Regions from separate parts of the Homo sapiens genome. Here region 1 is linked to region 2. Evidence: fine-mapped QTL for protein levels in blood plasma. A gene starts in region 2. The other region holds a variant in brackets. All regions are shown on one strand. Distances are between the middles of the regions.

Region 1 (15,855 bases), 63 kb before region 2:
AACATACTGCAACAAAGTGAATGCAGAAGATATGACAATCCAGCTGTCTTTTATTAAGCTACACATTAAAGAGATTTGCAAAAATGTAAAACAATGCCATTTTTTCACTACAATTTTTTAAATATAGGGTTTTTTTCATTAAAATATCATTTGTACTAACATGGCTTATAATTGTTGCTTTTAAATGAATAAATAATATTTCTTGGTTGTAAGTTCTAATATGGTGAACACAAATAGAAAAACATAAACTTATTTGGGGCCGGGTGCAGTGGCTCACTCCTGTAATCCCAGCACTTTGTGTGGCCAAGGCAGGCGGATCACTTGAGGTCAGGAGTTCGAGACCAGCCTGGCCAACATGGTGAAACCCTGTCTCTACTACAAGATACAAAAACTTAGCTGGGCATGGTGGCACATGCCTGTAATCCCAGCTACTTGGAAGGCTGAGGCAGGAGAATCGCTTGAACCCAGGAGGCAGACGTTGCAGTGAGCCAAGATCACACCACTGCACTCCAGCCTGGGCCACAGAGCGAGATGACATCTCAAAATAAATAAATAAATAAATAATAAATAAACTTATTTGGAATCCTCAAAGTTTAAAAGTGTAAAGAGGTCCTGAGACCAAAAAAGTCTGAGAAGTACTGCTTTAAAAGTCTCCCATGAAGACAAGGAGAAAAAAGGCCAACAGCCAGAGGGACACAGTGGGTCCAGAGAAGGGATCATTTAGGCAATAACAGTTATTACAATTTTCTTATCCACAACAAAAATAGATACTTAGAAAAATAACACAATATTGCAATTTTCTAATGCTTTAAGCAAACCATTAAAAATATGGAACCGTGGCTGGGCGCAGTGGCTCACACCTGTAATCCCAGCACTTTGGAAGGCTGAGGCGAGCGGATCACTTGAGGTCAGGAGTTCGAGACCATCCTGGTTAACATGGTGAAACCCCTTCTCTACTAAAAATACAAAATTAGCCTGGCGTGGTGGCATGCACCTGTAATCCTAGCTGCTCAGGAGCTGAGTCAGGAGAATCGCTTGAACCTGGGAGGCGGAGGTTGCAGTGAGCGGAGATCACGCCACTGCACTCCAGCCTGGGTGACAAGAGCAAAACTCTGTCCCATAAAAATAAATAAATATATATGTGTGTGTGTGTGTGTGTGTGTGTGTGTGTGTGTGTGTAACCGTTTCTGAACTATTACAGTTGGAAATACACAAATTTGTGGTGTGTACAATTCATTTGCAGCATTAAATCAACATGAAACTTTTAAATTAATGAAGGCTAAGATAAAATTCACTTGTCAAATGAAAGGTTATCAAGTAATGTTTTAAGAACTTTATGCTACAGATTGTTAATTTTACTTGTGGGAAAACTAATGTCACACTGACTTCTATGCTAAAAAAACAAAAATTAAGTCAGCCATTTCTACTTACTGTCCTTCAATGAGCCACGTGCACTTCGTTTTGTATTTATAATTTCCAGGTCCATCTGTCACAAACCCAGAAGATCCAGTTAGTCTGTAATTTAAATCAAGAAAGAAAACTTAAGTCTGCTATATTAATTTCATATATTTTTATATATTTTATATATTTTCATATATTAATATTTCTTAATTCTTAATATAATACAAATTAAACATAATGGGTACATTAACAAACACTATAACCAGTAGAAAATGACTAGTTATATTCAGATTGCATAAATTTAGATGAAACAAATACTTATTGCATACATTAAAAAAGAAGACAGAAAAATATTAAAACCAACAGGAATGAACAAAACATACCTAAATCTTATCTTAATTTTATGTCATCCTTTTTCCTTTTGGTAAAGACAGGTCTCGCTATGTTGCCCACGCTGGTCTCAAATTCCTGGCCTCAAAAGATCCTCCCATCTCGGCTTCCCAAAGCACCAGAATTACAGGCTTGAGCCCTCACACCCAGCGATAAATTTCTTAAATTTATTTTTTGTAGAAACAGAGTCTCACGATGTTGCCCACGCTTGAACTTCTGGCCTCAAGCAATCCTCCTATCTTGGCCTCCCAAAATGCTGGGTTTACAGGCATGAGCACTGCCACCAGCAAGTATCTGTTACTATATAAAAATGTTTAATATTTAAGAAGGACGCTATTTCCTTCATCATGGCTGTTTCCAGATATTTTTCTTCCCTCTTTCATTAACATCAGCCACTCTGAACACATGCTCGCTTCTGGATCTGCCTCCCTTACCTTCTGAGTCATCTCCCAGCTACTCCTAATGCACTAAAGATATTAACAAATCGTTCACTCTCTTCCACTCATCTGCATCAACATCTAAGATGTTCCATCCAAAATCCAGTCTCTCCATTTCTTAACCTCACCATTAACTATCTTTTCCTCCACCCCTCTTTAGCCATCCCCTTCTCTGGCCCTTGCTATTACCAGTAACAACATTACCACAAAAAAAGCACCCTGACCTCTGACTACTATCTCATCTCTCCAGTTTATTCCCCCTTTCCAATGAGACTTTGGCCCCATGGAGACCACCAATCCATTGAACTATCATTTCTTCACTGTTCACCACCTACCATCCACACATTTCATTTTCTCACATACCTAGTTAAGACTCCATAATCCATCACGAGAATCATATCCTGCAAACTCCCTGATGTTCTTGCCTTTCTCTTCCTCTGCTGTACTTGCCTGATAGAGATGTATCCATGCCCTACTCCCCAAAATCCATTCCACCCCAAAATGTTAGTCGAAGCCAATCATGTTTTCCCATGCCCCTTGCCACTGACTGATTAGAAATCTGTATCAATTAAAATTAGGTGTGGACCAGGCATGGTGGCTCTTGCCTGAAATCACAGCAGTTTGGAGGCTGAGGCAGGAGGACTGCTTGAGGCCATGAGTTCAAGATCAGGCTGGCCAACACAGCAACACCCTCATATCTATTTTTAAAAAAGAATATGTATCTATATAGATATAGATATACATCATATATAGATATAGATGTAGAAAAAAGATTAGGCTTTAATGCAACTGTCAGAAAAACCTAAATAGTAATGGACTAACCACCAAGATAAAAAAAACCCAAAGATAAGCAATCCAGAGCATGCAATGCATTTCCATGATCATCAGGGACCTAATGCTGTTCTATACTATTGCTCTGTCATCCCCAACATGTGGCTTCTACCTCATAATCCAAGATAGCGGCTCAAGCTCCAGCTATTATACCCAAATTCTACCCAGCAGGAAGGAGGAAAAGAAAACGGGGGGGTACACCCTCTCTCCCTCTGTTAAGTCACACATGAAAATTCAACTTACATTCGATTAGCCAGAAGTTACTGACATGTCTACAAGTAGAGGAAGGCTGAAAAATGCAGCCGTTATCCCAGATGATCATGTACCCATCAAAAAATCAGAATTCTTTTTACTAGAGAAGTAGAAAAAGGCTATGATGTGTAACCATGAATCTCTGACACAGAATGTAATCTAATACTTAGATGTGAGGGCACATCTGATGGATGATTTCCAGGAAATATTTTCTTATTCTTAGGAAAGTGTGTGGACAGGGAGACATGCCACCTAGATCTCCTCTTCAAGGAAGGACTTGCTGCCAGCAGCAGCAGGGAATGTGGTCAGCAGAACATCAATTCCTTCAGGGGCTGCCTTGCTACAGGTCATGCCCTTCCCATGGCAGCCCACACCATGAAGAGGCCCATACCATAGGCTGGGCGTGGTGGCTCACGCCTGTAATCCCAGCACTTTGGGAGGCCAAGGCGGGTGGATCACGAGGTCAGGAGATCGAGACCATCCTGGCTAACACAGTGAAACCCCGTCTCTACTAAAATTACAAAAAATTAGCTGGGCGTGGTGGTGGGCGCCTGTAGTCCCAGCTACTCGGGAGGTTGAGGCAGGAGAATAGCGTGAACCCAGGAGGCAGAGCTTGCAGTGAGCCAAGATCGCGCCACTGCACTCCAGCCTGGGCGACAGAGTGAGACTCTGTCTCAAAAAAAAAAAGAGTATAAAGGCCCAAGCATTTCAATCCAACATGGGACAACTCAAATAAGCAATCCTGCCCCCACAGTTCCCCTTTGTCAGGCCTGCATTGGAGCTCAACTTCTTCCTTTGCCTAATTATGCTTTTCCTTCCAATAACACCTTCCTCTACAATACTATAATCAAGTTGTAACCCAAACTCAGCCTTAGCAAATGCTTTTTAAAAAACAACCTATGATAAACATCCAAGAAGAGACCATTCTTCTCTATCTGGACTTTGCTATAGCTGGATTTTACAGCTGGAAGTACTACAGCCTGAACACAACGCCTGTGCTATGCCTGAACACAAAGCCAACACCAAGAATGACAAATCAAAGGAATGCAAAGTCCCTGAAAAACAGTATCAACCACCCACAAAAACCACCTTACTCTAGGCTTCTAGTTTCTTAGGTAAATTTCCCACTGGTTATTGTTTTATTCCGTGTGTGTGTACACACTTCCTTGATTCTTTGTCTTGGGGCCTAATATAAAAGGTTTTATGGCTCTCCACTATGCTGCTTCTGCTCCTAAGAGTTTCAGTGGACTTCACGTGAACACTTAGGTTTGCAAATCAGCATCAGTTTTATAAAACAAATATTTGTGTTTTTTGTTTTTTGTTTTTGAGACAGAATCTCACACTGACACCCAGGCTGGAGTGCAGTGGCAAGCTCAATGGCTCACTCCAGCCTCAAACTCCTGGGCTTAGGTGATCCTCCTACCAAAGCCTCTGGAGTAGCTGAGACTACAGGCACACACCACTATGCCTAGCTAATTTATTTTAATTAATTTTGTTTTTTAGAGATGAGTCTTGCTATGTTGTCCAGGCTGGGAAACAGGTCAGTTTTATTTTAAATGTTTACTTAGTATCTTTAAACATACATATTTATATAATTTTACAGATAATGCATAGATATGATCACAGACGAATCTTGTTGTTGTTGTTGTTGTTGTTGTTTTAACCCACTTCCCCAGTTACTCTGACCCACCCTTGACCAAGGTAAACATTTAACCACCTACCAGGAATTCTTAAATACTTTTCTTCATACTCATGAGCCTATGATATAGGCATGGTTCTCTTAAATTATTTTTTGGTTACACAAATTATTATATACTTTTCTGCATCTTTCTTTGCTCACTCAACAAAACCTTACGGAAATTTCTCAAACTAATCTGGTATTAGTCTAATTTATTTTTTCTTTATGTAGCATAGTATCCCACCTATGGAGGTATCACTTTTTCCTGCCTTTCCCTACTAATGTTCATTTTGTTTTCAGTTGACTGACAATATGCACATCACTGCAATAAATATCCCTATACATATGGCCTTACTTGGGCTTTTATGTCTAAGAGTAGAAATCTTAGGAGGAGGTATACTAGGCCAAAAGGAATATGAATTTTAATTGTTAACCAAGCTGTCAAATTATTTTCCAAAAGGCTGTAACAATTCACATTTGCACCAGCAATGTATGAGAATATGCTATTCCCCACATCCTCTCAGCACTAGGTGTTCCTGTTTCTTTTAAATTATGTGAGTTTTTAATTCAAAATTCCCTGTGTTCTAATAAATGGCCAACAAGTGGTTACTAAAAGTTTAAAGGAATTTGAAAGAGAAAGGCCAGGAATATCAACCTAAAATTTCAGGTCAAGTTTTACAGTATCATTGATAATCTAGGTGTGGGCATGGGCAACACCTGTACACTAGGAAAACCTAGTTCACTGGCAGTCACACAAAGGCATCAAACTGAAAGGCATTTCAATAATGTAAGGCTAAAATATGAAGAATAAAGACCTTGCCACCACCAATTTCTTAGTTCAAGAATACTGAGGTAATTCTGCAGTGGAAACAAATATAGGGAGAATAGGGGAACAGGAGGCAGGTTTCAAAGGACTCGTCTCATAGTTATTTCTTTCTACTTTACCAGTATTATTACCAGACAACGCAGCCTATAAAATCTCAACTTTTCTCATCTGTTAAGATTTTCTTTATGGTCAAGTACCTTGGACATTAAACTTTGACCACAGTTCCTTGGACATTAAAAAAAGATCTATTCCAGGAATTTAAAACACTATTTCTATACACATATGATTAAGATTATTAAATGCACTATTCAATTCCTTATACTCGTATTTTCATCTACTAGACCTAATTCTGATAAACATGTACTGAAATCCTGGCCAGGCGTAGTGGCTCACACCTGTAATCCCCAGCACTTTGGGAGGCTGAGGTGGGTGGATCACGAGGTCGGGAGTTTGAGACCAGCCTAGCCAACGTGGCAAAAACCCATCTCTACTAAAAATACAAAAAAAAAAAAGAAAAAAAAATTAGCCAGGCATGGTGGCAAGTGCCTATAATCCCAGCTACTCGGGAGGCTGAGGGAGGAGAATCGCTTGAACCTGTGGGGCAGAGGCTGCAGTGAGCTGAGATCGCACCACTTCACTCCAGCCTGGGAGAAAGAGCAAAACTCTGTCTCCAAAAGAAAAAAACATATATATATAATATATAATTTTTTAATATATATATTATATATATATATAAATCTCATACCATGCCTGCTCTACCACACTACTCAGATTATTTTTGCTTTATGTGTTAAGCTTTTTAGCCATACAAGATTATGGCTATTGGATTTTCATAAAATATGCCTTTTATGATGTTAACAATCCACTTACCTAGTTTGATATTTAAATTTCACCTTGTCTAATATTATTATAATTATTGATCTTTTGGTTATTTTCCTGTATCTTACATCTTTATTCAACTCTTTTATTTTCAGCTTTACTTATCAAGTTTTCAATAGTTTGCTTCTTCGAAACAGGACTTGGTTAGGTTTTGTTTCTTAAACTAACCTGACAGTATTTTACTGCCACAATATATAATCTGTTTGCATTTAGTTTAGTGACTGCTATACCAATTTGATTCCTTCCAACCAAATCTTTAATCAATCTTAGTGAAAAGTAATTTACATATAATAAAATGCAGCCACTGATGTGTACAATTTGATAAGCTTTGACAAATGTATACACAAAGTGTAATCTCCTCAAACAGGATATAAAACAGTTTCCTCACCCCCAAAAGCTCTCTTATATCCCTCTCCAGGTAATCTCTCCCAACCTCCACCTCAAACATTGATCTTATCTTTCCCACTATAGATCAGTTTTACAGAATTTGACTTAATGGAATCAAAGACACTTTTGTGTCTTGCTTCTTTTTATCAACATAACTTTTCTAAGTATTGTATCAATAGTTTGCTCCTTCACACTGCTGAGTAGTATTCTCTTGTATGAAAATACACAACTTGTTTATTGGTGGACACTTGGATTACGTAATTATAGGCTTTTATAAATGAAGTTAAGACACGTATAAATCTTTCTGTGGACAGGTATCTACATTTCTCTTGAATAAATATACAAAATGAAATCACTGGATTAAAGTATAGATATGCACTTAAATTTTTAAGAAACTGCCAAACTGTTTCCACCTTACAATCACATTTTCAAGATATGAGAGTTCTACTTATTCCACATCAGTTCCCACATTTGGTATAATCAGACTTTTTATTGCTTATTCCAGTAGGTATGCACTATTCTATCTCATTATGGTATAAATTTGTATTTTTCTGATATTTAAAGATTTTCAGAGGCTGGGCACAGTGGCTTATGTCTATAATCTCAGCACTTTGGGAGGCCAAGGCAGGTGGATCATTTAAGCCCAGGAGTTCAAGACCAGCCTAAGCAACATAGTGAAACCTAGTCTCTACAAAAACACAAAAAACTTAGCCAAGTGTGGTGGTATGCGCCTG[T/G]AGTCCCAGCTACTTGGGAGGTTAAGGTAGAAGGATTGCTTGAGCCCAGGAAGCAGAGGTTGCCATGAGCCAAGATGGTGCCACTGTACTGCAGCTTGGATGACAGAGGGAGAAACTGTCTCAAAAAAATAAGATAAAAAAGATTCTGAGTACCCTTTCTGGTGTTTACTGATCATCTGCACATATTATTTTGTAATGTGCTTGTTATTATTTTTGCCCTTTTTTCTAACTTTTATTTTAGGTTCAAGGGGTCCATGTGCAGGTTTCACAGGGGTTTGATGTACAGATAATTCCATCACCCAAGTAATCAGCGTAATACCTGAAAGGCAGTTTTTCAATCCTTACTCTCCTCCCACTCTCCACCCTCAAGCAGGTCCCGGTGTCTGTTGCTCCCTTGTGTCCATGTGTACTCAATGATTAGTTCCTACTTGTAAGTGAGAGTATGTGGTATTTGGTTTTCTGTTACTGCATTAATTCACTTAGAATAATGGCCTCCCTGCATCCATGCTGCTCAAAGGACACAACTGCATTCATTTTTACAGGTGGTAGTATTCCACGGAGTATATGTACCACATTTTTTTTTTTTGAGACGGAGTTTCGCCCTGTTGCCCAGGCTGGAGTGCAATGGCGCAATCTCGGTCAACTGCAACCTCCGCCTCCTGGGTTCCAGCAATTCTCTGCCTCAGCCTCCTGAGTAGCTGGGATTACAGGCGCCCACCACCATGCCCGGCTAATTTTTCTATTTTTAGTAGAGACGGGGTTTCACCATCTTGGCCAGGCTGGTTTGAACTCCTGATCTCGTGATCTACCCACCTCAGCATCCCAAAATGCTGGGATTACAGGTGTGAGCCACCACGCCCGGCCTTCTGGTTTTTTTGTTTGTTTTTATACTTTAAGTTCTGGGATACATGTGCAGAACATGTAGGTTTGTTACACAGGTACACACGTGCCATGGTGGTTTGCCGCACCCATCAAGCCGTCATCTACATTAGGTATTTCTCCTAATGCTGTCCCTCCCCTAGCCCCCCACCCTCCCAACAGGCCCCAGTATGCGATGTTCCCCTCCCTGTGTTCATGTGTTCTAACTGTTCAACTCCCACTTATGAGTGAAAACATGCAATGTTTGGTTTTGTTCCTGTGATAGTTTGCTGAGAATGGTGGTTTCCAGCCTCATCATGTCCCTGCAAAGGACATGAACTCATTTGTTTCTATGGCTGCACAGTATTCCATGGTGTATATGTGCCACATTTTCTTTATCCAGTCTATCATCGATGGGCATTTGGGTTGGTTCCAAGTCTTTGCTATTGTGAGTAGTGCTGCAATAAACATATGTGTGCATGTGTCTTTACAGCAGAATGATTTATAATCCTTTGGGTATACACCCAGTAATGGGATTGCTGGGTCAAATGGTATTTCTGGTTCTAGAACCTTGAGTCACCCCACTGTCTTCCACAATGATTGAACTTATTTACACTCCTACCAACAGTGTAAAAGCGTTCCTATTTCTCCACATCCTCTCCAGCATCTGTTGTTTCCTGCCTTTTTAATGATCACCGTTCTAACTGGTGGGAGATGGTATCTCATTGTGGTTTTGACTTGCATTTCTCTAATGACCAGTGATGATTAACTTTTTTTCATGTTTTTTGGCTGCATAAATGTCTTCTTTTGAGAAGTGTCTGTTCATATCCTTTGCCCACTTTTTGATGGGGTTGTTTGCTTTTTTTCTTGTAAATTTGGTCTTTGTAGATTCTGGGTATTAGTCCTTTGTCAGATGGATAGATTGCAAAAATTTTCTCCCATTCTGTAGGTTGCCTGTTCACTCTGATGATAGTTTCTTTTGCTGTGCAGAAGCTCTTTAGTTTAATTAGATCCCATTTGTCAATTTTGGCTTTTGTTGCCTTTGCCTTTGGTGTTTTAGTCATGAAGTCTTTGCCCATACCTATCTCCTGAATGGTATTGCCTAGGTTTTCTTCTAGGGTTTTTATGGTTTTAGGTCTTACGTTTAAGTCTTTAATCCATCTTCAATTAATTTTTGTATAAGGTATAAGGAAGGGGTCCAGTTTCAGTTTTCTGCATATGGCTAGCCAGTTTTCCCGACACCATTTATTAAATAGGGAATCCTTTCCCCATTGTTTGTTTTTGTCAGGTTTCTCAAAGATCAGATGGTTGCAGATGTGTGGCGTTATTTCTGAGGCCTCTGTTCTGTTCCATTGGTCTATATATCTGTTTTGGTATCATGCTGTTTTGGTTACTGTAGCCTTGTAGTATAGTTTGAAGTCAGGTAGCAAGATGCCTCCAGCTTTGTTCTTTTTGCTTGGGGCTGTCTTGGTTATATGGGCTCTTTTTTGGCTCCATATGAAATTTAAAGTAGTTTTTTCTAATTCTGTGAAGAAAGTCAATGGTAGCTTGATGGGGATAGTATTGAATCTATAAATTACTTTCAGCAATATGGCCATTTTCACTATATTGACTCTTCCTATCCATGAGCATGGAATGTTTTCCATTTGTGTCCTCTCTTATTTCCTTGAGCAGTGGTTTGTAGTTCTTGAAGAGGTCCTTCACATCCCTTGTAAGTTGGATTCCTAGGTATTTTATTCTCTTTGTAGCAATTGTGAATGGGAGTTCACTCGTTATTTGGCTCTCATGAGTTTGTCTATTATTATGTATAGGAGTGCTTGTAATTTTTGCACAGTCTATTATTGATGTATAGGAATGCTTGTGATTTTTGCACACTGATTTTGTATCCTGAGACTTTGCTGAAGTTGCTTATCAGCTTAAGGAGATTTGGGGCTGAGACGATGGGGCTTTCTAAATATACAATCATGTCATCTGCAAACAGAGATAATTTGACTTTCTCTCTTCCTACTTGAATACCCTTTATTTCTTTCTCTTGTCTGATTGCCCTGGCCAAAACTTCCATATTAGGTTGAATAGGAGTGGTGAGAGAGGGCATCCTTGTCTTGTGCCAGTTTTCAAAGGGAATGGTTCCAGCTTTTTCCCATTCAGTATGATATTGGCTGTGGGTCTGTCATACATAGCTCTTATTATCTTGAGATAAGTTCCACCAATACCTAGTTTATTTAGAGTTTTTAGCATGAAGAGCTGTTGAATTTTATTGAAGGCCTTTTCTGCATCTATTGAGATAATCATGTGTTTTTGTCATTGGTTCTGTTTATGTGATGGATTACGTTTATTGATTTCCGTTATGTTGAACCCATCTTGCATCCCAGGGATGAAGCCAACTCGATTGTGGTGGATAAGCTTTTAGATGTGCTGCTGGATTCGGTGTGCCAGTATTTTATTGAGGATTCTCGCATCGATGCTTATCAAGGATATTGGCCTGAAATTTTCTTTTTTTGTTGTGTCTCTGCCAGGTTTTGGTGTCAGGATGATGCTGGCCTCATCAAATGAGTTAGGGGGAAGTCCCTCTTTTTCTGTCGTTTGGAATTGTTTCAGAAGGAATGGTACCAGCTCCTCTTTGTACCTCTGGTAGAATTCGGCTGTGAATCTGTCTGGGCCTGGGCTTTTTTTTGGTTGATAGGCTATCAATTACTGCCTCAATTTCAGAACTCGTTATTAGTCTGTTCAGGGATTCAACTTTTCCCTCGTTTAGTCTTGGGAGGGTGTATGTGTTCAGGAATGTATCCATTTCTTCTAGATTTTCTAGTTTATTTGCGTAGAGTTGTTTATAGTATTCTCTGATGGCAGTTTCTATTTCTTTGGGATCAGTGGTGATATCCCCTTTATCATTTTTTATTGTGTCTATTTGATTCTTCTCTCTTTTCTTCTTTGTTAGTCAAGCTAGCAGTCTATTTTCTTAATCTTTTCAAAAAACAGCTCCTGGATTCACTGATTTTTTGAAGGGTTTTTCATGTCTCTATCTCCTTTAGTTCTGCTCTGATCTTAATTATTTCTTGTCTGCTAGCTTTTGAATTTGTTTGCTCTTGCTTCTCTAGTTCTTTTAACTGTGATGTTAGGGTGTCGATTTTAGATCTTTCCTGCTTTCTCCTGTGGGCATTTAGTGCTATAAATTTCCCTCTAAACACTGCTTTGGCTGCGTCCCAGAGATTCTGGTATGTCGTGTCTTTGTTCTCACTGGTTTCAAAGAACTTATTTATTTCTGCCTTAATTTCGTTATTTACCCAGTAGTCATTCAGGAGAAGGTTGTTCAGTTTCCATGTAGTTGTGCAGTTCTGAGTTTCTTAATCCTGAGTTCTAATTTGATTGCACTGTGGTCTGAGGGACGTTATGATTTCTATTCTTTTGCATTTGCTGAGGAGTGTTTTACTTCCAATTATGTGGTCAATTTTAGGACAAGTGCCATGTGGTGCTGAGAAGAATGTATATTCTGTTGCTTGGGGGTGGAGAGTTCGGTAGATGTCTATTAGGTCCTGTTGGTCCAGAGCTGAGTTCAAGTCCTGAATATCCTTGTTAATTTTCTGTCTCATTGATCTGTCTGATATTGACAGTGGGGTGTTAAAGTCTCCCACTATTATTGCGTGGGAGTGTAAGTGTCTTTGTAGGTCTCTAAAGACTTGCTTTACGAATCTGGGTGCTCCTGTATTGGGTGCATATATATTTAGCATAGCTAGCTCTTCTTGTTGCATTGATCTCTTTAACATTATGTAATGTCCTTCTTTGTCTTTTTTGATCTTTGTTGGTTTGAAGTCTGTTTTATCAGATACTAGGATTGCAACCCCTGCTTTTTTTTTTTTTTTGGCTTCCATTTGCTTGGTAAATACTCCTCCATCCCTTTGTTTTGAGCCTATGTGTGTCTTTGCACATGAGTTGGGTCTCCTAAATACAGCACACCGATGGGTCTTGACTCTTTATCCAATTTGTCAGTCTGTGTCTTTTAATTGGGGCATTTACACTTAAGGCTAATATTGTTATGTGTGAATCTGATCTTGTCATTATGATGCTAGCTGGTTATTTTGCCCATTAGTTGATGCAGTTTCTTCATAGTGTCAATGGTCTTTACAATTTGGTATGTTTTTACAGTGGCTGGTACTGGTTTTCCTTTCCATATTTAGAGCTTCCTTCAGGAGCTCTTGTAAGGCAGGCCTGGTGATGACAAAATATCTCAGCAATTGCTTGTCTGTAAATAATTTTATTTCTCCTTCACTTATGAAGCTTAGTTTGGCTGGATATGAAATTCTGGGTTGAAAATTCTTTTCTTTAAGAATGTTGAATATTGGCCCCCACTCTCTTCTGGCTTGTAGGGTTTCTGCTGAGAGATCTGCTGTTAGTCTGATAGGCTACCCTTTGAGGGTAACTCAGTCTTTCTCTCTGGCTGCCCTTAACACTTTTTCCTTCATTTCAACCTTGGTGAATCTGACGATTATATGTCTTGGGGTTGCTCTTCTCAAGGAGTATCTTTGTGGTGTTCTCTGTATTTCCTGAATTTGAATGTTGGCCTGTCTTGCTAGGTTGGGGAAGTTCTCCTGGAAAATATCCTGAAGAGTGTTTTCCAACTTGGTTCCATTCTCCCCATCACTTTCAGGTACACCAATCAAACGCAGGTTTGGTCTTTTCACATAGTCCCATATTTCTTGGAGGCTTTGTTTGTTCCTTTTTCATTCTTTTTTCTCTAATCTTGTCTTCATGCTTTATTTCATTAAGTTGATCTTCAATCTCTGATATGCTTTCTTCTGCTTGATCGATTTGGCTATTGATACTTGTGTATGCTTCACAAAGTTCTTGTGCTTTGTTTTTCAGCTCCATCAGCTCTTTCACATTCTTCTCTAAACTGGTTATTCTAGTTAGCAATTGCCCTAACCTTTTTTCAAGGTTCTTAGCTTCCTTGCATTGGGTTAGAACATGCTTCTTTAGCTTGGAGGAGTTTGTTATTACCCACCTTCTGAAGCCTACTTCTGTTAATTCATCAAACTCATTCTCCATCCAGTTTTGTTCCCTTGCTGGCGAGGAGTTGTGATCCTCTGGAGAAGAAGAGGCGTTCTTGTTTTTGGAATTTTCAGCCTTTTTGCGCTGGTTTTTCTTTATCTTCGTGGATTTATCTACCTTTGGTCTTTGATGTTGGTGACCTTTGGATGGGGTTTCTGTATGGACGTCCTTTTTGTTGATGGTGATCCTATTCCTTTCTGTTTGTTAGTTTTTGTTCTAACAGGCCCCTCTGCTGCAGGTCTGCTGGAGTTTGCTGGAGGTCCACTCCAGACCCTATTTGCCTGGGTATCACCACTGGAGGCTGCAGATCAGCAAAGATTACCACCTGTTCCTTCCTCTGGAAGCTTCATCCCAGAGGGGTATCCACCAGATGTCAGCTGGAGCTCTCCTGTATGAGCTGTCTGTCGACCCCTGATGGGAGGTGTCTCCTAGTCAGGAGGCACGGGGGTCAGGGACCCACTTGAGGAGGCAGTCTGTCCCTTAGCAGAGCTCGAGTGGTGTGCTGGGAGATCTGCTGCTCTCTTCAGAGCCGGCAGGCAGGAATGTTTAAGTCAGCTGAAGCTGTGCCCACAGATGCCCATTCCCCCAGGTGCTCTGTCCCAGGAAGATGGGAGTTTTATCTATAAGCCCCTGACTGGGGATGCTGCCTTTCTTTCAGAGATGCCCTGCCCAGAGAGAAGGAATCTAGAGAGGTAGTCTGGCTATGGAAATTTAGAACATTTACATCTTTTCTCTTTTCTAATAAAAACTTTTGCAGGTACAAATTCCTCTCTATATACTGCTTTAGCTGCATTCCACAAATGTAACAGACTGTGTTTACACTTTCATTCATTCCAAAATGTTTTTCTAATTTCCCTTATTTCTCCTTTGACCTATGTGTAATTTAGATGTTGCTTAATTTCCAAATGTTTGGGGGAATTTTTCTAGTTATCTTTTTGTTAATGATTTCTATTGCAATTCCACAGAAACTCTGGCTCACGTCTATAACCCTAGCATTTTGGGAGGCCAAAGTGGATGAATCACTTGAGGCCAGGAATTTAAGACCAGCCTAGGCAACATAGTGAGACCTCATCTCTACTAAAAATTAAAAAAAAAAAAAATTAGCTGAATGTGGTAGAGTGTACCTGTAGTCCCAGCTACTCAGGAGGCTGAGGTGAGAGAATCATTTGAGCCCAGAGATAGAGGCTGCAGTGAGCTACAATCCCAACACTTCAGCCTGGGTGACAGAGCAAGCGAGACCCTGTCTTCAAAACAGAACACATGACATATGGTTTCAAATCTTTTAAATGTATTGAGACTTGTTCTATTATCCAGCATATAGTCTATTTTACTGAATGTTCCAAGGGCACTTCAATGTGTAATCTGCAGTTGATATGTATCATGTTCTCTAAGTACCAATTATGTCAAGTTAATTGACAGTGTTATTCAAGTCTTCTATAACCTTCTTATTTTTCTGTATACTTGTTTTATTGATATTGAAAGGCAAATGTTGAAATCTGCAACTATAATTGTGGATTTGCACATTTCCCATTTTAGTTCTGACCATTTGTACTTCATGTATTTTAGAACTCTGTTGCTAAACACCTACAAATGCAGGACTGTTCTGTCTTCTTGAAGAATTTACATGTTTGTCTTTATGAAATATTTCTATCTCTGTTAATATTCCTTGTTTGTGTGAAATCTACTTTGTTTTTGGGTTTTTTTTTTCTCTTGACTTTTATTTTAGATTCAGGGGTATGTGTGCAGGTTTGTTGCATGCGTAAATTGCGTGTTGCCGAGGTTTGATGTACAAAGAATCCTTTGTATGCAAAGTACCTAATACTTTGCATACACCTTCATTCATTCCAAAATGTTTTTTTCTGATTTCCCTTATTTCTCCTTTGACCTGTGTGTACGCATAGTACCTAATAGGTAGTTTTTCAACCCAACCCCGCCTCCCAACCTCCCCTCTCAAGTAGTACCCCCTGTCTATTGTTCCCATCTTTGTGTCCACATGTATTCATTGTTTAGCTCCCACTTACAAGAACATGCGGTGTTTCATTTTCTGTTCCTGTGTTAATTCACATGAAGTCGACTTCGATCTTAATATAGCCACTCCAGTTTTCTTTTCATGAGACTACATAATTTATTCACATT
Region 2 (15,432 bases):
CCACAGATCTCCACTTGGCCTGGCTTCCCGCCTTTCTCTCCAGTCTTGCCAAGCTCCCCTTTGCTCTCTCTGCTCCTGCCACCTGGCCTTCCATCCGCTTCAACCCCAAGCCTCTGTACCTGCTGGCCCCTCAGCACCCCACCCCTCACGCAGGTAGTACCATCTCACCCCTCAGACTTCACATCGCTTCCTCAGTGACTTACCTTACCCCTAGACTAAGTCAAGTCCTCTGTTTGTCTCCTGCTCTTTACCTCCACAGCCTTAAACAAAATTACAATAAAATTTTTGTTGGATTTTTTTACTCCCAAGCTGAAATGTGAGCTCCGTAAGAGCAGGACTGTGCCTGTCTTGTATACCACTGTATCTCACAACCTAAAACATAGGAGCCCTCAACAAATACATGTAGGTTAATGGAATTCATAAATCAGAACACCCTAAGTTACAAAAGCAGCTTCACTGCATCAGTGGTCCTGAAGTAACTTGGTTTCTCCATCCATAAAACTAAAGAGCTCATCTGCTCAACGTTCTCTGAGTTCCTCAGAAGACCTAATATTACCTAAGTCTACAATTTTGCTATTCCAAACTCCTCTCTCACAACTCTCTTCCACATAGGCAGCAGCAAAACTTTACTTTCCAGCCTCCACAACTTTGTTTGCACCCTTCTTTCCATCTGTAATTTTTTTCCAGCTCCACATTTCCAAATCCTACTTAACCTTACATGCTCAAATCCAATGTTACCGCCTCCTCAAAGTCCTCCTTGCATCCCTCCAGCTAGCCACAACCTCTCCATCCCTGAATTCCCACAAGTTCCCTGTTGCCTCATTCAGGTCTCAGATCAAATGTCATTTCAAATGAGAACCCTCTCCAAGAGTCACCACCGGTTATAATTCTCTATCAGACCACGCTGTTTTTATTTTCTTGATAGCATTTACCATTACCTGAAATTACCATGTTTATTTCTCTCATTTATTTACTTGTTAAGTGCCTGTTGCTCCCACTAGAATGTTAAGGTCAATGAGAGCAGAGGCCCTGTCTGTCTTGTTCACATTTCCCCACTCCCCCACATCAGACATGTGTTCAGTAAGCTAAATACCTGTCAAAGGCGTGAATGACTCTGTAACCCTTATGACTAGGGTTATGTGCGCACATTATCTTTCTCTTGCTATATTCCAAACTCCCTGTGGACAAGGCCAAAGTCTGGCTAATCTGTCTGTATTATCTGGAAAATCATTGCACAACTGAAGCAAATAACGATAACTGCTAATTAATTTATTGATTTCTCCAAGAGGAACTGCCCCAAACTAAGCCAATTCAGAACTTCATATTGTCCAGAAACCAAGGCAAATAGGAATCTCCTTCCATTCCCTCTTCACCACAGACCCTATTCCAATTTGCCACCTCCAGGGAGCTTTTGCCAAAAGGCTAGTTTCCTCACTTTCCTTTAGAAGGACCACTGGTCCTTCTATCCCTAATATCTTACAATGCTACCCTTTCCCTTTTATCTCCAGCCAACAAAGCATTTCCAGGGCCCTGTTTCTTCAGAGCACCCCACATCTCCAGTGCATCGGGGAACTCATCGGGTCCTAGGGCACATGTGGATGTTAAAAGGAAGTGTTCAAGCAAACCTGGCTCGACCACCTTTCCTTGGATACCTCGTTTAGCTGAAACACGCCGAGTTTTAGAGCGATCGGCTTTGATGCTCTTTGGGTCCCTCAGCATTCTTCCCATCTAACTAACCTAAGCACCCAAATACCGTCGGGGTGCCCCCACCCTTGCCCCACACCTTTTCACCTTCCAACAGAGAAAGACCCCAGGCCAGAGACGATGATCTCCCCGGAAGCAAATGGCCCTCAAACCCCATAGGGCGGCCCTACCCTCTCCACTTTCTGTCCAGCATCTCCCTCTGACCTGGAGCCGTCTCGAACGCCCCTCAGCCCCAGCCTCTGGTTGGACCCGACCCTCCGACACCACCCGCCACTCACCTGAAGCGGCCCCCGCAGTGCTGGCATTGCTCGCCCACCCAGCCGGCGGGGCAGACGCACTGGCCGGTGCCAGGGTTGCAGCGACCGCCGTTGACACAGGGCCGGTCACATTCCTTGGCCTCGGCTGCGGCTGAGCCCGACACCGCCGCCGCCGCCGCCGCGGCCTCGGCCTCACAGGGCAGCAGCAGCAGCAGCAGCGGCGGCGAGAGCAACAACAGCAGCAGCAGCAGCCGTGGCCGCAGCGGTGGAGACAGCAGCCGCGGGAGGCGCAGCCCGGCCCCCAGCCCCGGCCTCCCAGCCCTGGTCACGTCCCAGTCCCAGTGCGGCCCGCCGCTCCTGCCCGCGAGCGCTGCCGTCGCCGCCGTCCTCCTCCTCAGCCTTGCCTCAGTTGCCGCCGCTGCAGCCACCATCTTCCCGGGGCTGAGACGGCGCCCCGCGAACACATACACACACACCGCACGGCCGGCTCCGCTTCGCCTGGCCGTGCGGGGCGGGGCTGTGCGGACGGTGGCTCGTGCGGTCCAAAGGGGCCACAGCGGGGCGGTGGGCGGGGCCGGCGCGCGCGTGCGCGAGTACGTGGGTGCGTGCGTGCGGGGGCGCAGACAGTGGTCTCCGGCGTCCGCGGCGCCGGAGGCGATCTTCTGACGTGGACCGTAGAACGAGCTGAAACCCGGCTGCGCTGTCCCGGCCGGCGAAAGCTCTAGTTTTCCCCCTTCGCCTTTCGTCCCCGGCGGCGGGGTTGCAGCCCCACTGGATGCCTAGGAGCCGACTGCGTTGAGTGTTGCCCTCCTAGAGACCCGGCACTCTGCCCTAACTCCAGCTGCCGGACGGAAAGGGTACAGGAGGCTGCATCGCAGCGAGGTGCTGGGTGCGGTACTGTAGAAGCCAGGCTTCATTCGAGCCTCTGTAACACAAGAGTCAAGAAAGAACACATGTAGAACCTGGCATAGGCCGGGCGCGGAGGCTTACGCCTGTAATCCCAGCACTTTGGGAAACTGAGGCAGGCGGATCACTTGATCTCTGGGATCCGAGACCAGCCTGGCCAACAGGGTGAGACACTGTCTCTACTAAAAATACAAAAATTAGCCGAGCATGGTGGTGCGCGCCTGTATCCCCAGCTACTCCAGAGGCTGAGGCAGGAGGATCGCTTGAGTCTGGAGAGGTCAAGGCTGCAGTGAGCCGCAGTCGCAGCACTGCACTCCAGCCTGGGCAACACAAGACCCTGTGTCAAAAAATGAAGAACCTGGCATGTAGGCTGTGCTCAGTAAATGCCTAATAAACTGAATGAAGACACACAGCCAGGCCTCTTGATAACAGATGGACTGTAGCTGACCAGACCCCCTACCTTTAATTCTGTAAAAGTTTGGAGTTACCTTGCTCCCCACAATTTGCCCTCCAACCATCTTCTCTGAAGAGTGGGCAATATAGAATTAGGAAATGGCGCTCACACAGACCTGCCCCTTCTTGTCTGGTAGTTGTTACTCTGGTGTCCCTCAATGAGACATGTCTTCCATCAATGTAGCCTTTTATGGTCCTTGACCCTGGAATCTGGGCTGGGTCATGATTGAGACCATGAGAAACCATGACTCAATTTCACCAATAGAAGAAGTTGGTAGGAGTAGCAATGTCTTGTTTCTAGCTCTGAGCTTAAAAAAGACCTGGCAGCCTTGGCCGGGCACGGTGGCTCACGTCTGTAATCCCAGCACCTTGGGAGGCCGAGGCGGGCAGATCACGAGGTCAGAAGTTCGAGACCACCCTGATCGACGTGGTGAAACCCTGTCTCTACAAAAAATACAAAAATTAGCCGGGCGTGGTGGCACACACCTGTAATCCCAGCTACTCAGGAGAGTCGCTTGAATCCAGGAGGCAGAGGTTGCAGAGAGTCGTGATCGCGCCACTGCACTCCAGCCTGGGGGACAGAGCGAGACTCTGTCTCAAAAAAAAAAAAAGACCTGGCAGCCTTGATTTTGAGCTGTTGGTGGTCATGAGCTGCACCCCGTTAGCCACCTTGCTGGAGAGAAACCATGTGCAGAGACCACTTGGACTTGGAGAGGGAGAGCTGGGCCGCTCAGCTGGTGGAGCCATCCTAGCTAAGGGATCAGTCATTGAGTGAAGAAGCTATCTGGGTTGGGTTATTCCAACCGTCTGGGCTGTTCCATGTTACCTACAACAGTAACAGGTCTTTCCTAACTGTGACTTATCCAAAATCCTAAGAAATAACTCATTTATCATTTAACCCTTAAGTGATGAATTATTTATAATTTTTCATAAATTATGATTTATGTTATTTTAAGCCTCTAAGTTTTAGAGAGGTTTGTTACTCAGTAATAGATAAGCAGAACATTGTCCGACATAATGCTTGTGCTATGAGGAATATTCCTATGGCACCTACCTCAGAATCTGGGCACCTTACAGTCCCTGGGAAACAAAGAAAAACCCTCATAGACCTGTGGAGCCTCTCAGCTTTACCTCAGAGTATGGAATTTTAAGGTTCTAAGATGGATTTCCACACTCATACCCAGGTCCCACTCTCATACTCAGGTCCTGACTGTCCTCACTGCATCTTCTTCAAGCCTGGTGAAGCTGAATTGCACAAAAGCCTTACCCCCAGCTCTACATCCACACATACTCCCCATTCCTACAGGAAAACTATTGTTCGGCCTAGGCCCTAGCACTGACATTCTGGTTTGCAGGTTATGTTTTTGCCATGTAGGATTTTGAAATTGAAGACATGGCCCTACCCTCTGGCAGGACCCCATCAGATGGGGAGGCTGGCATAGGCCATGCCCTAGCTGTAGGAGACATTGCTCCCCCTAATCTTCCAGGCCAGAAGTGAACCAGCCCTTTCCTTCCCTTCCCTCCCCACAGCAAGACTGAACCCACACTGTGAAGTTTCACATGATTTTACCAACATTCAGGGATAACAGAAAAGGTGTGCATCTGAAGAACAGCAATCCCTAGACTAGATATTGCTACTCTGAAGCCTTAGAATCTTGCTGCAGCAAACATTCTTTCTTACTTCCTTAATCTACTCTCTTCTCTGGTTCTTTTTCCTTAGCTTTCAAACATGCTCAAATTATTTTGTCCTTAAAAAACAAACACGCTGGGTGCAGTGGCTCATGCCTGTAATCCCAGTGCTTTGGGAGGCCAAGGTGGGAGGATCACCTGAGGCCAGGAGTTTGAGACCAGCCTGGACAACATAGTGAGACCTTGTCTCTACAAAAAATTTTTTAAAAAATTAGTCAGATGTGGTGGCGTGCATGTGTAGTCCCAGCTACTTGGGAGGCTGGGGCAGGGGGATCACAGAGCCCAGGAGTTTGAGGCTGCAGTAAGCTATGTTTGGACCACTGCACTCCAGCCTGGGCAACAGATCAAGACCCTGTCTCTAAAAACAAATAAACAAAGAAACAAAATCTTACCTGCTATCTTCTTTTTCCTTTACTGCGTTTATCAAAAAGTCCCCTACACATTCTATGTCTGTGTGATAGATTAAAGATGGCTGCAAATTCTCTTACATTCCTTCTATGGAGAGATCAGGTCTAACCCTTGGCCCCGGCCCCACCCCCACCCCCACCCCCACCCCACTCTGAATCTAGCCTGGCCTTAGTGATTTGCTTGACTGATAGACTATGGTGGAAGTGATGTACTGGGATTTCTGAGGTCCCAGAAATGGGACTTTATGCTAGGTCATAAGAAGTCTTGCAGCTTCCTCCTGAAGTGTCTTGGAACACTTGCCATAAAAGATGTCCAGCTACCCTGAGACCACCATGCTGTGAGGAAGCCAGCCCCCAGCCATTCAAGTCTTCCCAGTTGGGGCCCCAATCATGAAGCAGGGGGGTGTTGTTCCTGCTGAACCCGCCCCAAACTGCAGATACATAAGCAAATAAATGAGCCAACTGGGGACAGTTCGTTACACAATAATAAATTACCAGAATACTCTGTACCCTGGTTCCTCCAAGGACAAGAATAAGTCTTGTGATGTGGACTTGATTAAGAATTAAGAACGACAGTATAATTGTATATAAATGTATAATCTACAACTAGTCATCTATATGTAATACACTAGTATCATTGTCCAGTTGCTTCTCATGAAGGAGGTCACCGTAGTCACCGTAGCTTCAGAAGTGCCTCTGTTGTACCCCAGTGCCTTATCAGCAAGATTCTGCAGCAGTTCTGCCTGAAATCCCTTTTTTTCCACTGGTCTTTGTCATGGTGGTCATTTCCAGGTCCCAGAAACTGTAATGCCAGTGGCAAAGAATACCCAGGCTTTGATACAAATTACTCTAAGTCCAGACACTAAAATAACATTGTTCTTGCCAACTGCATGACCAAAAGGGTTTGTCTCCACTAGGTTAGTGCAGGATGGTTTGAAGGTGCCTATGCCTATTCTTTTTCACTTAAGTAAGGCATCTTACTCACCTTGGCCCTTTCTCTGATTTCATGTCATCTCTTCCTGTTTCTTTGCTTGCATTGTCTCCAAGTCATGGACATAGATGGATTTTATAATTTTTGGCTTTTACTCATGCAGTGTCTTTGGTCAGATTCCCTAGAAGCAGAACCCTGAAACAGGATCTGAGTGCATAATTCATTGGAAGATTGCTCTCGGAAGAAACACAGTGAAGGAAGCAAGATAGAGCCCAGGAGGGGGTTGAGAAAAGATGTGGTCTGGTCTTATCTAGAGTTGAGCTTCAGCCTGATCCTATGGAGAGCCCTAGAGCATGAATTGTACCATAGAATTGATTCCACTTTGAGGTAAGGGAGCAGCATTTTGTACACACATCTCTTTCAGCAGACAACATTCACAGCAGTAAGAAGGATCCTATAAAGGAAATTTGGGAGGGGTACCAATAGATACAAATAGATAGCTCCATGTATGTGTAATACATATAACAAATGTTTGTTTATCAAATACCTACTAGAAAGCAAAGATTGAATACTGCTCAAGTAAGATCTGATTGACCATCTGACTTTCCCGCAAACATCACCGGTCCTCATTCTGCACTGTTTGAAACATCGATACATTTTATTGTCCCAAAGTTATCCTTATACTTTTAGTCAATGTGTGACCAAGCAATTCTCTAATTATAGGTGTTAAAATCTCACCTAGAAGGTAAGGTACTACGTTGCCTGTGAAAGAGGTTGATCCTGAAGGTTTGGAACAAACACAACTGAGAGGGTTCTAGGTAGGAATAAAGTGCCATTGAAAGCTCCAATGGATATCCCACTGTCAACCAACCAGCAATAAGATTCCAATAGTCCTTGGCAGACTGTAAGAGAAAGTGTTTAGGAGTCCCTGATCTGGGAGCATAAAGTTATACCTCTGAGCTGTTGGCAGAGCTCCTGGTGGCCTCCTCAGACAAGTCCCACAAGTACAGGAGTTCACCTTTATGTCAGCTCAAGGGACAAGACGCTGCACTGGGATGAGCACATCAATTTAAAGGCAGAAGACTTGAAATTTCTATTGGATGAGCTAGATTCATGCCCCCTCCCCCAAATTTCTACAACAGAGAACAAAAATTTTCTCTTGTGTATAGATAAGATACTATGAAAACAGTACTACTGTTAAAAGACAAATGACTTTGCTAAATATGGCCATGAAGTACTTCAAATTAGAAGTTCCCAAACTGAAGCCATCCTTTTGGATTAAAATCCCTTATAATTTCTCCTAATTACAGATGACATATTAGTTTCCTGTGACTGCTATAATAAATTTCCACAAACTTGGTGGCATAAAACCACAGAAATTTAAAAGTTGACAGTGCAGAAGTCCTACTAGTCTGGTTCTTGTTCCCACCTGGGTACCAGCTTCCTTCAGCAGTGTTGGCCAAGGTGCTGGGGGCCAACGAAGGGAAGAGTCAACTTGTGAGAATTTTGCAGGTCTGTTGTTCTTAGCACAATGCAAGGCTAGACAAAGAGGAGAAAGAAACTTACCTGATCAGTGCCAGAAGTTATTGCACTCAAAGGGGAATAAGCAGGAAAAAAGAAAGGAAAGAGGGAAGAAAGGAAAACAAAAGGAAGGAAGGAAAAAGAAAGAAAGAATAGAAGGAAGAAAGAGAAGCCCCACAGACATGAGATGAAACCCTGTCCAAAAATGGAAGGAAGGCCAGAAAATAGTGAACCAAATTTTGAGGAAAAGCCAGAGGAGGAGGAAAATGCAGAAGGAACTTTTAGAGAAAGCTAATTCCATCTCTCCAGAATATAAAGATGTACATAAGAGGCATTTAAGCAATGAAGATATGTTTAGAGAAGTGGATGAAATAGACGAGATAAGGAGAGTAAGAAACAAACTTATAGGGATGTACTGGAAAATTGATCAAAACCATCCTTGCCCCTATTTAATGCAATTTACTTTTATTTTTATTTTATGTGATATTAACAATGCTATATAACTTTCTTTTTATTAGCATTTTTCTGATATACCTTTGTCCATCTTTCTACTTTTAACCTGTTGCTGTTAGTGGCTTCAGATGCATCATTTACCCATATCTCATTGTTTACCATATTTGAACCAATCTTCAAATCTCTTTTATAGAAGAGATTTACTCATTTGTAAAAAAAAAAAAAAAAAAAAAAAAGAGGTTCCTGATAGGATATAAAATGAAAAAAGGGTTACTAAGTAATATGTTAATATCATTTTAATTTTTTAGTTTTTAGGGACAGGGTCTTGCTACGTTGCCCGGGCTGAAGTGCTGTGTCTATTCACAGATGTGATAATCGCATACTACAGCCTCAAACTCCTGGGCTGAAGCGATCCTCCTGCCTCAGCCTTCCCAGTAGCTGGGACTACAGGCACATACCACCATGCCCAATTGTGAATAACATTTTTGAAAGGTAAGAGTACATTTGGATATCACATATATGCACATAAAAACTCGTGAAGGGTGAAAGACAAAAGGTACAATCTCTCCACAGAGGATTATAAAAGATTTTTTTTATCTGCTTACTTGTGTATTCCATATTCCTAAAATGAACACACATGATTATTGCTAAAAACAATAAAAGTTTTAAAACAACAACAAAAACCAACCTACAGAAATGTATTCTCTCACAGTTCTGGAGACCAGAAGTCTGAAATCAGGGTATCAGCAGGCTAGGCTTCTGGAGACTCTAGGGAAGAACCCTTCCCTGCCTGTTCCAGCTCCTGGTGGCTGTCCACATTCCTTGGCTTCCTTGGCTCGTGGTCACAAATCCCATATCTGCCTCCACCTTCACGTCACCTCCCCTCTATGTCCGTCTTCTGTGTGTATCTCCTATAAGGACATTTATTGGATTTAGGGCCCACCTGGATGATCCAGGATGAACTCACCTCAAGCTCCTTAATTAATTACATTCGCAAAGCCTTTTTTTTTTTTTTTTTTTTTTTGAGACAGAGTCTCACTCTGTTGCCCAGGCTGGAATGCAAATGGCATGATCTTGGCTCACTGTAACCTCTGCCTCCTGGGTTCAAGCGATTTTCATGCCTCAGCCTCCCAAGTAGCTGGGACTACAGGTAACCGTCACCACGCCCAGCTAATTTTTGTATTTTTTTTAGTAGAGACGGGGTTTCACATGTTGGCCAGGCTAGTCTCGAACTCCTGACCTCAGGTGATCCTACCGCCTTGGCCTGCAAAGTGCTAGGATTACAGGCATGAGCCAACGTGCCTGGCAACATTTGCAAAGACCTTTTTTTCCAAATACAGTAACATCCAGAGGTTCCAAGGATTAGAACATGGACAAATCTTTTGGGGGAGCCACCATTCAGCCCACTTCACACACTACACAGGTAGTCAATTCACTCAATGTATTCATTTAAGCAACTTATATTTTTTGAGTGGCTGCTGTATACCAGACACTGATCTATGCTCTGGGAGGCAGAAATGAAAAAGGATATCAAAATTCCTCTCTTTCCTCATGCCATTAGAATAGCTTGTATTTAAAATAAAAGAAGAAGAAAAGGAAAAAAAAACAGGCCGGGCATGGTGGCTCACCCCTGTAATCCCAGCACTTTGAGAGGCTGAGGTGGGTGGATCACCTGAGGTCAGGAGTCCGAGACCAGCCTGGCCAACGTGGCAAAACTTCATCTCTAGTAAAAATACAAAAATTAGCTGGGTGTGGTGGCGCATGCCTGTAATCCCAGCTACTCAGCAGACTGAGGCAGGAGACTCGTTTGAACCCGGGAGGCGGAGGTTGCAGTGAGCTGAGATCGCGCCATTACACTCCAACCTAGGCGACAAGAGAGAGAAACTCTGTCTCAAAAAAAAAAAAAAACAAACACACACAAAAAACAGACAATACTGGCATGGTGGTGTGGTGGTGTGTGCCTGTAGTCCAGCTATTCGTAAGGCGAACACAGGAGGATTGCTTGAGCCCAGGAGTTTGAGGCCAGCCTGAGCAACAACATGGCAAGACCCCCATCTCTAAAAACAAAGAAGTCAGACAAACAGACAATAACAAGTGTTGGTGAGGATGTAGAGAAATTGGAACCCTTGTGCACTGTTAGTGGTAATATAAAATGGTGCAGCCACTATGAAAAACAGTATGGGGGCTCCTCAACAAGTTAAAAATAGAATTACCATTTGATCCAGCTGTTCACTTCTGGGTATATTTCCCAAATAATTGAAAGCAGGATTTTGAAGAGATAGGTGTATTTCCATGTTTATTGTAACATTATTCACAAGAGCCAGGAGGTGGAAGCAACTCAGGTGTCTGTAGATAGATGAATGGGTAAACAAAACGTGGTATAAACATACAATGGGGCCGGGTACACTGGTTCATGCCTGTAATCCCAGCACTTTGGGAGGCCGAAGCAGGCAGATCACCTGAGGTCAGGAGTTTGAGACCAGCCTGGCAAACATGGCGAAAACTCATCTCTACTAAAATACAAAAATTAGCTGGCCATGGTGGCGGGTGCCTGTAACCTCAGCTACTTGGGAGGCTGAGGCAGGAGAATTGCTTGAACCCAGGAAGCAGAGGTTGCAGTGAGCCAAGATTGCTCCACTGCAATCCAGCCTGGGCGACAGAGCAGGGCTCTGTCTCAAAAAAAAAAAAAAGTACTATGGGCCGAGCGTGGTGACTCACAGCTGTAACCCTAATGCTTTGGTAGGCCAAGGCAGGAGGATGGCTTGAGGCCAGGAGTTTGTGACCAACCTAGGCGACAATAGCAAGACTCCTGTCTTTACAAAAGAAAAATTGTTTTAAATTAGCCAGGCACGATGGTGCATACCTGTAGTCCCAGCTACTTAGGACGCTAAAGAGGAGGATTTCTGGAGCCCAGGAGATCGAGGCTGCAGTGAGCCATGATCGTACCACTGCACTCTAGCCTGAGCAACAGAGCAAGAAGCTGTCTCAAAAGTAAAAATAAAAATTAGCAGAGTATGGTGGCATGCACCAGTAGTCCAAGCTACTTGACAGGCTGAGCCACGAGGATCACTTGAGACCAGGAGTTTGAGGCTGCAGTGATCACACCACTGCACCCTAGCCTGAGCGACAGAGGGAAACCTTGTCTAAAAAAAATAAAATAGAAACTTATATACACACATCATGATATGACAATTTATTGATTAATTCTCTTGCTGGACATTTGGGCAGTTTCCAGTTTGAGATTACTATGAATCATGATGCTATGATCATCTGGAAATCAAATACAGGTATTTTGGTGAGTATACATACATTTCTATTGGGTAGATACCAGAGGTTTGCTCATAAATGTTTAGCAACCAGCTCACTGAGAAGAAAAAGCCTTCATGCATAGCACTAGTTGATTTCTATGTTGTAAATACTCCCACCATGACCTATTTCGAGCTCCCATCATGATGTCACTGAGTGTGGAATCGGAAAGAGAGACATAGGCTCAGCCCTCACAAGCCAGTGGGAACCAGCTCCAGCACCATGTACGCCTGGGAGGTCTACTGAGAAACAGATGCCAAAACCAAATTAGACATACAAGGGCTTTACTGGGGGAAATGTCTGTGAAGGATAAAGCGGAAGCAAACAGGAAATGGCAAGAGAGGATTCAGACAGGAATAAAAATCTGACAGCTGTGAAGGAAAGCGGGAAGAAAAGATTGGTTAAGAAGAGTGTCAGATGTCAGTGCAGTTTCAATGAAGGCTCTCCCAGGCCAGTGGGGAGTCCTGGAGCCAGAGTTGTCTGTCAGAGCAGCAGCATCTTGCAGGAATCAGCCTGCAGTAGCACAAACGCAGTGGGGGACCCGGAGGGGGAGCAGCTGGGGCTGCCAGTCAACTCCGCTCCCCACGGCAGGAGAGCTGAACGATGAATTTTCACGGTTGCCACAACTGGCAACATTCCTTTGCGCCATCTCCATGTAGATGTGAGGTGGCTCTCAGACAGTGTCCCCTCCAGGTGACCTGTTTTTCACAAGTTAGATACACAACCTGGGCTTGGCTGACTTGTTTGGAAGCTGGACTGGCTGTTTTAGACTTAATAAGCCCCAGATTTCTTGGGTTTATTCAGTAGAAAAGAGAGGGTCTCAAGAGGAAGACATTGGTTTTTTTCCTAATAAGAACAGATAAGTATTCTAATTGTTAACTAAAGAAATTGGCCGGGTGCAGTAGTTCACGCCTGTAATCCCAGCACTTTGGGAGGACGAGGCAGGCGGATCACCTGAGGTCAGGAATTTGAGACAAGCAATGCCCAACATGGCAAAACCCCAACTCTACTGAAGATACAAAAAATTAGCCAGGCATGGCAGCGTGCGCCTATAATCCCAGCTCCTTGGGAGGCTGAGGCACAAGAATTGCTTGAACCCGGCAGGGCGCGGTGGCTTACGCCTGTAATCCCAGCACTTTGGGAGGGCGAGGCGGGCTGATCACAAGGTCAGGAGATCGAGACCATCCTGGCTAACATGGTGAAACCCCATCTCTACCAAAAATACAAAAAATGAGCCGGGCGTGGTGGCGGGAACCTGTAGTCCCAGCTACTCAGGAGGCTGAGGCAGGAGAATGGCGTGAACCCGGGAGGCGGAGTTTGCAGTGAGCCGAGATTGTGCCACTGCACTCCAGCCTGGCAACAGAGCAAGACTCCGTCTCAAAAAAAAAAAAAAAAAGAATTGCTTGAACCCAGGAGGTGGAGGTTGCAGTGAGCCGAGATCATATCACTGCACTCCAGCCTGGGCAACAAGAGTGAAACTCCATCTCAAAAAAATAAAACAAAAAAAAGAACAAAGCACATTGTCCTGGCACCACCAAAAGCACCATCTCTGTTTCTCATGCTTACTCAAGGCCCTGATACAGACCACTGCCAAGGTTGTGATCAAGGCCTCTGATGCCTGCACAGAGGTCCCTATCTCATGTTGCTGCCAAAGCCACTGGCACCAACTCCCATTATCTGAGAAGCCACTGGCAGTGAAGCAGCCTTTTTTATGGTGAAGTGGTTCTTGCGTTCACTTGCACTGTGACTGTGGCAGGAACCCCAAGATGGGGGAAGGGTGGCACATAACCCTGTGTGCAGAACTAGCTGACCAAAAGCCTGTGACTAGAGGTATAGCCCAGATTACAGTGTTTACCAAGTTAAACAGACTGCAGCCAGATTGGCATATCAAAAATGGCTCAAGGAACAGGGAGAGTTTAGCTATGAACCCAAGCAAGGCAGGGCCAAGGGCACTGATTGTGGACAAGGTTCAAAGAGGACAGAAAGCAGACCTGCAAGATGTCCACAAGCTGGAGTCCTAGGCTTGAGGCAGCTTTGAAGTCTGTGGCTGTGGCCATAGTCTGGGTCCCCAGACAACAGTCCCTGTCTCCCATATGCATTTTAAGGGAGGCTGTCATTTTTTGTTTTTTGGTGTTTTTTTCATGTGGAAAGTTCCGCAAGATCTCTGGAGATTCAGGAGCCTGATGGCAAGAAGTCAAGCCCAGCCTCCCCTATAGTCACAAAGAGTGTATGAGCCGAGAGCCTCCTGCCACACACACACACACACACACACACACACACACACGCACACACACACACACACCAGCATTCTTTCCAGACAGCATCCTCTCTGCTTTCCACACAGGTAGATGCCAGATCTACCTTTCCCAACAGGGCTGCCAAAGCTGGACTTTGTTCCAACTGAATGATGTCATTCTCACAAACCAATTCTCTATATTGTTTGAAATCTGCACCTAGATATTGATTTCATGTTGTGGGTCAGGCGCGGTGGCTCACACCTGTAATCCCAGCACTTTGAGAGGCCGAGGTGGGCAGATCACTTGAGGCCAGGAGCTCAAGACCAGCCTGGCCAACATGATGAAATCCCATCTCTACTAAAAATACAAAAATTAGCTGGGTATGGTGGTGGGAGCCTGTAATCCCAGCTACTCGTGAGGCTGAGGCATGAGAAACGCTTGAACCTGGGAGGTAGTGGTTGCAGGGGGCCAAGATCGCACCACTGCACTCCAGCCAGGGGGACAGAGTGAGACTCTGTCTCTAAATAAATAAATAAATAAATAAATAAATAAATAAATAAATAAATAAATGATTTTATGTTTTAAAGAAACTCTCCCGAATTACAATTATGCCCGATGTAGGGTGGCTCTTGGGGGGTAAGTAAACAGTACAGGGCGTTAGAAACATGCTCAACTCCTCCAGAACAAAATTGCTCCTGAGTTCCATGGCCTTGGAACATATTTCTGTCACTCTGGTTGGTTGGGCTGGTCCTTAGCCTGGGTGCTTATAAGCAAAAGGGCTTGCTTATAAGCCCTCTAGTCATTCACAGTTCAGTGTGAGAGACTGACATCTAAACAGGCAATTAGGATTCGGAGTGCTCACTGCACGGGGGCTTGTAGAGAGATGAGCTTGCTGTCAGTGCACCCAGGAGGGCCACACACTTACGGTGTCTGTGGGTCAGACACGGCTTCATAGCACTGGGGCATTCGAGTGTGTCTTAGAGGAAGAGGAGAAACATGGCAAGCAGATTATGTCTGAATAATGTGAGTTGTGTTTTTCTTTCTTCCCATATTTACTATCTAAGACCTGCCTGAACTTAGCGGCTCAAGAGACATGTACGTATGTATGTATGGACGGATATGGATATACCTATGTATCTATATATATATATATATTTTTGAGACAGGGTCTCGCTGTGTCACCCAGGATAGAGTGCAGTGGCACAATCACAAGCCCTCATGCAATGGAGCCTCAACCTCCCGGACTCAACTGATTCACCCGCCTCAGCCTCCCAAGTAGCTGGAACGACAGGCATGCAGCACAAAGTCTGGCTATTCGTTGTTGTTGTTGCTGTTGTTGTTGTTATTTGTAGAGATGCAGTCTCCCTATATTGCCCAGGCTGCAGTGATCCTCCTACTTCAGCCTCCCAAAGTGCTGGGATTACAGGCATGTGCGACTGCACCCAGCCTCAAGACATTTTTGACAAAGCCCCCTACCCGTTCCTGAGGTAGTGAGTGCAACCTCACAACAGACAACAGGCAAGCCAGATCCCTAAAACCTGATTTCTCTAGGCTCGGCCTGGCCTGAC

Direction of the effects. Positions count from the first base shown, and alleles are read on the strand shown. Strength reflects both the effect of a copy and how common the allele is.
In carriers of allele T in region 1, the plasma level of the protein whose gene starts at base 2,482 in region 2 tends to be higher than with G alone (weak association).

Evidence for each region. PIP is the chance, under the fine-mapping model, that this variant and not a neighbour inherited with it causes the effect. The UK Biobank Pharma Proteomics Project read protein levels with antibody pairs (Olink). The fine-mapping took linkage between variants from a reference panel, not from the people measured, so its PIPs are less certain.
Region 1: its variant is fine-mapped to the plasma level of the ATRN protein (UK Biobank, PIP above 0.99).

What each region holds. Positions count from the first base shown.
Region 1 is chr20:3,520,913-3,536,767 of GRCh38, reverse strand. It overlaps ATRN (attractin), which reads right to left. Exons shown (of 29, transcript NM_139321.3): 2 at 1,432-1,515. Among named protein-coding and RNA genes, the nearest start is that of ATRN, 58 kb to the right of the region's middle. The variant T/G (reference allele first, on the strand shown) is at 7,816.
Region 2 is chr20:3,458,068-3,473,499 of GRCh38, reverse strand. ATRN (attractin) reads right to left here and starts at 2,482. Exons shown (of 29, transcript NM_139321.3): 1 at 1,983-2,482. The coding sequence starts at 2,392. It also overlaps the pseudogene TCEAL9P1. RefSeq lists a silencer at 2,096-2,655 and an enhancer at 2,756-2,895.